2 separate regions of the Homo sapiens genome follow, and region 1 is linked to region 2. The links come from fine-mapping of genetic effects on gene expression. A gene starts in region 2. The other region holds a variant in brackets. All regions are shown on one strand. Distances are from middle to middle. Region 1 has its middle 30 kb from the start of MB21D2. Region 2 holds the start of MB21D2 (Mab-21 domain containing 2).

Region 1 (4,391 bases), 30 kb after region 2:
TAGTGAGAAAACATTTAATAAGTAAAAATTGGTAAAGTGGTTAGAACAGTGCCTGACGCATAGTAATTACTATGTAAGTGTGGGCTATTCTTATTATATTGTATCACTGTGTAGCTCTGTAAAATAGCAAATATTTAGACTGTGCTGCTACGTAGAAAAATATATGTAAAATGTTAAGCAAAAACAGAACTCTAGAAAGCAAGCATCCAGGGATAATATCCCCATAAAAATTATATATACACAGTGAAGATAGAAGAGATGACATAGAGTTGGAAATCACGATTCTGTAATGGGGACGAGGTGCTGTGTTTACGTTTCCACAGAGGTCGTTATTTATCCAAAGTGGAGTTTAAATAAATAGAATAAATACACTCTCTTTTCCCTCTGCTCAGAGATACAGTCCAGTGCTTATAACTCCTCAGAGCTGGAAAGTCTTTCCATGCAAGACTTTTCTTTATACTATAATTTTAATCCAATTTTCCTTTAATTCATTGTTTATGAAGATTGGGAACCGTGGAGCAGCAGCTGTGATGAAACAACTCACTGTCTCTGCAAACAGAGGTCTCTGCTTCTACTTCTCATGGGGTGGTGAGATGATGGGCTCCTCTTTTGGGGGCTGCTTTGTCCCACACTCAGGGCTCAACCTCCTCTGTAGTGGGCCCTCAGCAGCACCTGACACGCAGCAAGAGTCTGAAAGTGACTTTTCTTCCTCTCTCTCCTCTTCCCTTTCCTCTCCTCACGCTCTTGGAGGCCAGAGTAGGAAGAAATGATATGCAAGTTATGAGAGACGGAGTCCTGAACTTGACTTCATTAGAATTTCATGTACATCATTGTGTGTGTGTGTGTGGTGTGTGTGGAGAAAAGCTTAATGTGAGCAGAGAACATTTTTCTATGGGGATGGGGATTGGGAAGACTCGTGATACGCCCTATTCTCATTTGTTTATCTGGGAGCCCAGTTCTGTGTTTGGTCATGTGACTGGTCTTGGTTTAAACTCTCTAACGGCCTCCTCTAGCACTTAGAGTCAAGCCTAACTTCTTGTCCTGGTGGCAGAGCCCTCCTGCAACCTGCCCCTGCTCACCTCTCAGAACTTGCCTCACACCTTTTCCTTGGCTCACCACTTTCTAGCTAACTCAGTCATTTTTGTTTGTTTCTCAAACATGCTAAACTTGTTTTCATCTACAGCTTTTTAGACTAACAGTCTAGAATACTCTTCCTCTCCATGTTCACCCATTTGGTTTCTTCTTGTCTTTCAAACCTCAGTGTAAATGTCACCTCTTCAGAGAAGCATTCTCTGGCCATGCAATCTAAGATACCTGAGTCATTCTTTTACCTTACCCAATTCTGGTTCTCTGAAGAATGGCCATCTGGTTTTGTGTTCTTTGTTTAGATATTATTTGTTTGCTGTTTGACATAATCTTTGAAGAAGGGAGAACCTTGTGTGCCCTGTTCTTCTGTTCTTCCCCAAATTCTGTAATAGTGCCCAATACAGAGACACACTCAATAAGTATGTTGCATAAATATATATGAATGCACAGTGAATGTTAGGTTAACGGGGGCTTCCAGGTGGTTCAGGAAGAGCAAAAGCTGCAAACGACAGCCGGACTTTTCTCTCTTGAGCTGAAAAGTAGGGCAGACCCATTGCTTTTCCACCCCTTTGTACATCAAAAACCATATTATTAACATCCTCCAGGTGGTAAAAGAAAAGAGGACACTAGCTGATCTATCTGTGCCATATAGTTTTTTGGTTCAGAATATTAACTACTTGGAGAATTACACACACACTATCAGATTTAAAGACTTACTATAAAGCTACAGTAATCTCAGGACAGTATTGACCAGTGGAACAGAATCAAGAGCACAGAGACATCTGTAGAAATATGGTCAATTGATTTCTGGCAAGCTTCCAAAGACAATTAATGGAAGAGAGGATTTGTCTATTCAACAAAGGATGATGAAACAATTGGTCATCCATATGCAAAGCCAAGAACTTTGACCAAAACTTCAAACTTTATATAAAAATAATTCAAAATGAATCATAGAGCTAAATGTAAAACATGAAACTATAAAGCCGTTTTTGGTAGTTTTTTTTTTTATTATTATTATTTTATTTTTCTTTTTGTTTTTGAGACAGGGTCGCCCAGGCTGGAGTGCAGTGGCAAGTACACGGCTCACTACAGCCTGGGGCTCCTGGGCTCAAGGGATCCTTCTGCCTCAACCTCCTGAGTAGCTGGGACTACAGGTGGGTTTCATCACGCCCGGCTAATTTTTTATTTTTATGTTTTGTAGAGCCAGGGTTTCACCATGTT[G/C]CCCAGGTTGCTCTCAAATTGCTGGGCTCAAGTAATCTGCTGCCTCGGCCTCCCAAGTGTTGGGATTACAGGCATGAGCCACGAGGCTCAGCCCTATAAAACCTTTCAAAGAATTGATAGGACCAAAATGTTTTTGACCTGAAGTTAGGCAGACAGGCTTTTTGTTTTATTTATTTTTTTAAGTGACTTAAAAATATTTACTTATTACAAATTTATTATCTTACACTTCTGAAGGTAAGTCTTAAATGGGTTTCATTAAGCTAAAATCAAGATGTCAGCAGGGCTGCGATCCTTCTGGAAATTCTAGGGGAGAAACTGTTTCTCTGTCTTTTCCAGCTTCTGGGGAGGCCTGCATTCCTTGGCTCGTGGCTCCTTTCTCCATCACCAAAGCCAGTACCGTAGTGTCTTCCCATCACTTTCTCCTTCTCTCTGACCCAGACCCTCCTGTCAGAGAGTTCTCAAACAGGACACCAAGAACATGATCCGTTAAAACGAAAAGTTGATAAACTGGACTTCATAACAATTTAAGAAGTTTGCTTTGTAAAATACATTATTAAGATAATGAAAATACAAGCTATGAACTGGATGATGAAAATAGTTGTGAATCATATTTCTGATGAAGGACTCCGAATATATAAAGAATTCTTAAAACTCAATGGTAAGAAAAACACACTTTTTTAAATGGGCAAATATCTTGAATAGACACTTTGCTAAAGAGGATATAGATGGCAAATAAGCACAGAAAGGGATGTTTAGCATCTCTTTAATGAGCACATGAAGAAGTTCAAATAGAAAAAATGCAAATTAAACCACCATGAGATACTATTAAACACTTTTTAGAAAGGCTGAAATTAGGCCAGGCACGGTGGCTCATGCCTGTAATCCCAGCACTTTAGGAGGCGGAGGTGGGCGGATCACCTGAGGTCAGGAGTTCAAGACCGGCCTGACTAATATGGTGAAGCCCTCTCTCTACTAAAAATACAAAATTAGCCTGGCATGGTGGCACATGCCTGTAATCCCAGCTACTTGAGAGGCTGAGGCAGGATAATCACTTGAACCCGGGAGGTGGAGGTTGCGATGAGCCGAGATCATACCATTGCACTCCAGCTTGGGCAACAAGAGTGAAACTCCATCTCAAAAAAAAAAAAAAAAAAAAAAAAAGGAAGAAAGAAAAAAGGAAAAGAAAGGCTGAAAAGAAAAAAAGAAAACAGTAACTGACAATACCAAGTGCTGATAAGGATGTGGAGGCACTGGAGCTGTAATATTTTGCTGGTGAGAAGTCAAGATACAACCATTCTAGAAAAGGTTGGCAGTTGTAAGGTTAAACAAATGCTTACCATGTGACCCAACAACCTGACTCCTAGGTATTTATCCCCACAAAACAAACACTTACCTTTACACAAAATCTTACATGTAATGCGTATAGCGACTCTATTCATGATCTCCAAAACCTGAGACAGCTCAAATTTCTTTCAACAGATGAATGGATAAATAAATGTGATACATCTGTATTACAGAAAATTACTCAGCAATGTAAAGGAAGAGACTATCGTTCCATGCAGCAGCAAGAATGGAGTTCAAAGACATTATACTGAGTGGAAGAAGTCAGTTCGAAAAGGTTATATACTACAAAATTCCATTTATGTCACATTCTCACAAAGAAAAAGACTATGTGACAGAGACCAGATCACTGAGTTCCAGGGGTTAGCATGGGAGGAAGGTGTGATTACAAATGGGTAAAGCGATGGTACTGATTTGTATACTGATTGTAGTGATGCTTGCATGAATCTACACACGTATTAAAATTCTTAGAACTGTACATCAGGAAAGCCAATTTTATTATATAAAATTTAAAAAAAAATTTAATGAAAGAACTAATAATTATCAAGACCTTGAATCCAGATTCCATTACTTTATAGCTGCGCTATATTGAACCAGGTACTATTTTCCTTAAGCCTCAGTTTTCTCATCACCTAAAATGTGTATAAGAGTATCTACATCGTGGCCGGGCGCAGTGGCTCACGCTTGTAATCCCAGCACTTTGGGAGGCCGAGGAGGGCGGATCATGAGGTCAGGAGATCGAG
Region 2 (4,391 bases):
ATCTGCTTTAGAAAAAGTAAATCCACATAGGAACCCTTGCTGTCGCCAAACCTCCACTTGTGTAGAGCAGCCAGCATCTCATTAAAGGAAAGCAAGGAACTCGCAAATGAATGCAGCACCACACACAGGCAAGCAAGCTCATTTCGCCATCTGCCTTCTAGTGTCCAGAGGGGCAAAAGGCTTAAATGACACTCTCTTGAATCTTCTCTCCTGCAGGTGGAAATGCTAAATTCCCAGGGGGCAAGAAAGACTGCTTGCAAGGTCAACTGGGTAAAAAGGAATAGAAGCAAATCTAGTTTACCTGTCAACACAATGCCACCCATGGCATTAAACACATGCAAAAATTAAGCACCCTAGAATAATTTACTTTTTTATATTTGGATAAAAGCTTTGCTGATTCAGTGTATCAGCTTTGGAGTTAAGCACAGAAGTTCCTCATGAGCCAGGCACTTAAATTTACCCTCCCTACATTATCCCATTTCCTGACCCATGACTACCCTAACTGGTGGTGACCCAGTACCTTCTTCTAGTAAATGACCTACGCAAGTGACATCAGAACTGATCTGGGGGCTGTATTAACACAATGGCAGACTTCCATTATTTATGCCACAGAGAAAGGCTATGATTAACTAAACAACTTAAGTAACTGCGCTCAGCCTTCTGTGTGTGGCCCCACCTTCCTGACAATCACTGTGTTGGCTTTTGGCTTTGTAAGCATTTTAGGCTTCCCTGTGGAAGCTCACTCCTACCAGGTTTTATATATATATATATATATATATTTAATTCATCTATTCATCTACATAGTTGAACGGCTGAATCTCTCAATAGTTTTTCAACCTCATACGCAACGTAAGACACACTTGAAGAGTGCGGCGCAAAAGGTAAAAACCAGCCTAGAGTTTTAACATGTTTCATCTAACTTCCCAACGCGTGAACAACTACCAGCGGACACAGACACGTTCAGTCTGTATTACCCCGTCCTTGGGCAGTGAGGAAGAAGAAAACCTAGAAGGAAGAAGGTATCCCAGGATAGAAGCAGCAACAGCCGGCTGAAACCCAATTAGATTGCAGGAGAAAGAGAAAAGCCCTGTCTTAGTCTGTGGCCAAAAGACCTTTCCCAATCAAATTTTTCAACACCTGGAAAATTGGCTTATCTATTTGTAGAGAGCACCCAGAGACGAGCGTTAGAGCAGCGCTACCCTGGAGTACCAGTTCTTCGGAATGTTGACCGCCGGCCACGCACCGCTTGACAGCCACGGATCCGCTGGCGGAGCCGCAAGTTACAACCCAGGCGCCTGGCAAACTCACACTACACCTCAGTAGCAATAATCCCAACGGCAGGACACCTGGGGAGGGTGGGCTCGGTCTCCCGGGCCTGGCTCAATTATGTTCCTTTACACAGCATTCAATCATGTTTCAGGAGCCGTAGGTGAGGGGCTGGAGGTGGGAGTGGGGGACACATTTTCTAGCCCCCGACGTCTCCGCGGTTGGAAACTCTGGGCACCTCTTTCGGCCAGCGCTAAGACAATACACAAAGAGCAGGGAACCGGCGCTCCTCTGCGGCCAGAGCTCCGCGCCTAGTCACGGAAGAGCTGGGAATTAAGAATTCCGAGCTCAGCGAGAGCCCTGAAGAAGCACCGGAAATGCTTCCGATCGCTTCATAAGAGAAGTCAATTTGCAAATCAAAGTTGCAGGAACTCCGGACGCCTAGACTACTTCAGCGGGTTACTCGGGAACACCCAACAAGTTTGGCCACCGGGGGCTCGGCATGACAGCGCCGCGCCGCGAGACGACAGAAGCAACTTGTCGCTCGGGCGCCAAGCCAGAGCCCTGAGCCGTCTCCGCTCCCAAGCTCGGGAGAGCACCCAAGAGCCGGCGTCGGGAAAGCGGAGGTCCCTGCCTCCGGCAGCCAAATCCCTCAACTGAAGGCACCTCAGGGGCTCACCTGGACTGCACTCGCTTCCAGGGGCTTCCCCCAACAGTGCAACGCTTCACCGCGAACGCCTCACCTGCCTGCCAGCCCCAGGTGGCGGAGAAATTAACAAAAGAGCAAGCGAACAGGGGGAAAGGGAGACCCGGCGTAAAGTATAGTAAGGAGGGGAGGGCAGGCAGCTCGGCTTTCGGCGGAGAAAGAAGAGAGAGGCGGAACAGAGATGGCTTATACCCAAGGCACCGGCTCGGGAAGGCAACCCAGAAGGGAAGAGGTCGAGAAGCGGCAATGGGTTTTCTACTCCGCTTCCCATCACACACACACACGCACACACACCTCCCCCTTTTTCCTCCTTACCCAGCATGGAAAAGATGAAATCCTTGGCTGTGTGAATCTCCAGCGCTCTCTGGTCGTCGTATTCCCGCTGGTCGTGCTTCGTAAATTCTTGGATGAGTTTGTTCAATTCCTCCACCCGAGCTCCCGACCTGAAATCCAGCTCCGGGAACGCAGGCTTGTTGTTACAGCCCAGGGAGGCTGCCTTGTTGGCGGTGGGAGCCGCCATCTTCATGCAAAACGCGCCGAGTAGCAGCTCCGCGGCAGCGCGGCACCCACCCCCGCCCCCCACCCCGCCCCCCTGGGCCTCCTCCCCTCGCAGGCTCCCAGGCTTTGGCCCCGGCTCGTGGGCGGGTTGGCGGGCGGGCGTCTGGGCGGGCAGTCCCCCGCTCCGTGCGCTCTGGGCGTGCGAGCTTCGGGAGGAGCTGGACTGCAGCGAGGGTGCGTGTGTGGCCCCGACACCCTTTTCTCCGGCCCCACGCCCGCCCCGATGCTGCGCGTCCCTGCCCTGCCCTGGCCCTCTCTGGCAGCGGCAACGGCGGTCGTAGAGCCAACTGGAGCCTCCCCCGGGCGAGGAAAGTGAAGTGGAAACAATGTGAAATTCACCAGCTCTGAAATCAACAAGCTGCCGGCTCCGGTGTTACGGAGCCAGCACCAGCGTCTCCATTTAAAGGGACAGCGCACCCAGTGGAAAGGAAAATAAATAAATGACAGAGGTCTGCACGCATATACCACTTGCCAATCCGTACTTGGGAAGACGCGCGAGGTGTGGATGCATTCTTTCTCCACCTCCACGGCCGTCCCCCCATCCCCTTTCTGGGCAGGGTTTGCCAAGCGCATTCAAGGAGAAGAAAGTCTTCCTCCGTTTGATTTTAAGGGCGGTGTCCTGGGGGAGGACATCTCTGTGCGCGTTTACCTCTCTATCCCAAGAACTCCAATACCTTTAAATAGTAAAGGAAACTGCCTTAAGGAATATGAAACCTGTCTTCTACCCTTTTCCTCTTGGATTGCCAAGATGATAGGATTGAGCGTATAAAAAAAGAGGGTCCACATCTAACCCAGTATTGGCACTCCCACTAACCCCTAGATATCCCTACCTTTGCCCAAGGTAATTAATGACCTGAATAACAGCTTATTTATCTTAACATATAATGAGTTAATGAGATTCAACCTACTCTAATATAAAGATAGGGAAACTGAAGTGTGGGTGTGGGAGAGGGGAAACAATGTATTGCCCCAGGTTCCAAGAAATGTTGGATGACAAGATGAAAATTTTCTCATTCAACAGATAAAATTTGAGTACGCACCATTTGCCAGATGGAGTGACAGAATGTGACAGTGATAACCAAAAGACATGGCTCCTACCATGGAGTTAGGCTTACATGACAAGGCAGGTTCAATCTAAGTCATAGTCCTTTAGGCAGAATAGAGTCTCAGAGGTGGTTTTAGTGTTTATGGGGTGTATCATTCAAACACTTAGGAGGCCCATTGGCTGTGAGAAACATAGGTTATCTTCCTCCCTAATTCTCCAAAATCTCTCTTCTCTATCCCACAGTCCCTGATTTAGATCAGGTCTGTTTCACTTTCTTACCCGAGTTCTCATGGCCAAGAATACAAATTGTTTTGTTAGACATGGAAGGAAGTACGGACTCTTCCATGCCTTCCCCTATAAAATGGGAATAATAATTCCTGTCTCACAGGTTGTTTTAAGGATTACGTGAGATAAAACAGGTCAAGCACTTAGTTCAAGGACTGACATAATAAGTACTTAGCTATTATCAGCTTCTACTATTATTGTTATTAATTCTTTCACTGTTCCTCAATCTAGTAACAACTTGTTGCCAGAGTGATCTTTAGAAAACACAGACCTGACCACTGACCTCCCCCTGGAATTCCTCTCTTCTTTACTCCGTTTACACCAAAACCAATCCGCGTCTGCCTTTTTCTTACAGCTTTCCGGAGACCCTCCCCTCAAGCTGGTGGCAACTTTTCCTTCCTCAGAACCTACTCTCAGAAGCTTTCATATGATGCTAATGAATTTTGACCTTGCTTCATCATTGCTTTTTGTTTTGGGTTGTGTGTGTGTGTGTTTGTTTGTTTCTGAAACAGGGTCTTCCTCTGTAGCCCA

The links. PIP is the estimated chance that this variant, and not a neighbour inherited with it, causes the effect.
Region 1: its variant is the best candidate, but not a certain one, in a credible set for the expression of MB21D2 in monocytes after Pam3CSK4 (Quach 2016, PIP 0.75).

The regions. Positions count from the first base shown.
Region 1 is chr3:192,945,689-192,950,079 of GRCh38, forward strand. No RefSeq gene overlaps it. Among named protein-coding and RNA genes, the nearest start is that of MB21D2, 30 kb to the left of the region's middle. The variant G/C (reference allele first, on the strand shown) is at 2,308.
Region 2 is chr3:192,915,343-192,919,733 of GRCh38, forward strand. MB21D2 (Mab-21 domain containing 2) reads right to left here and starts at 2,514. Exons shown (of 2, transcript NM_178496.4): 1 at 2,288-2,514. The coding sequence starts at 2,498. RefSeq lists an enhancer at 1,480-1,809 and a silencer at 2,460-2,819.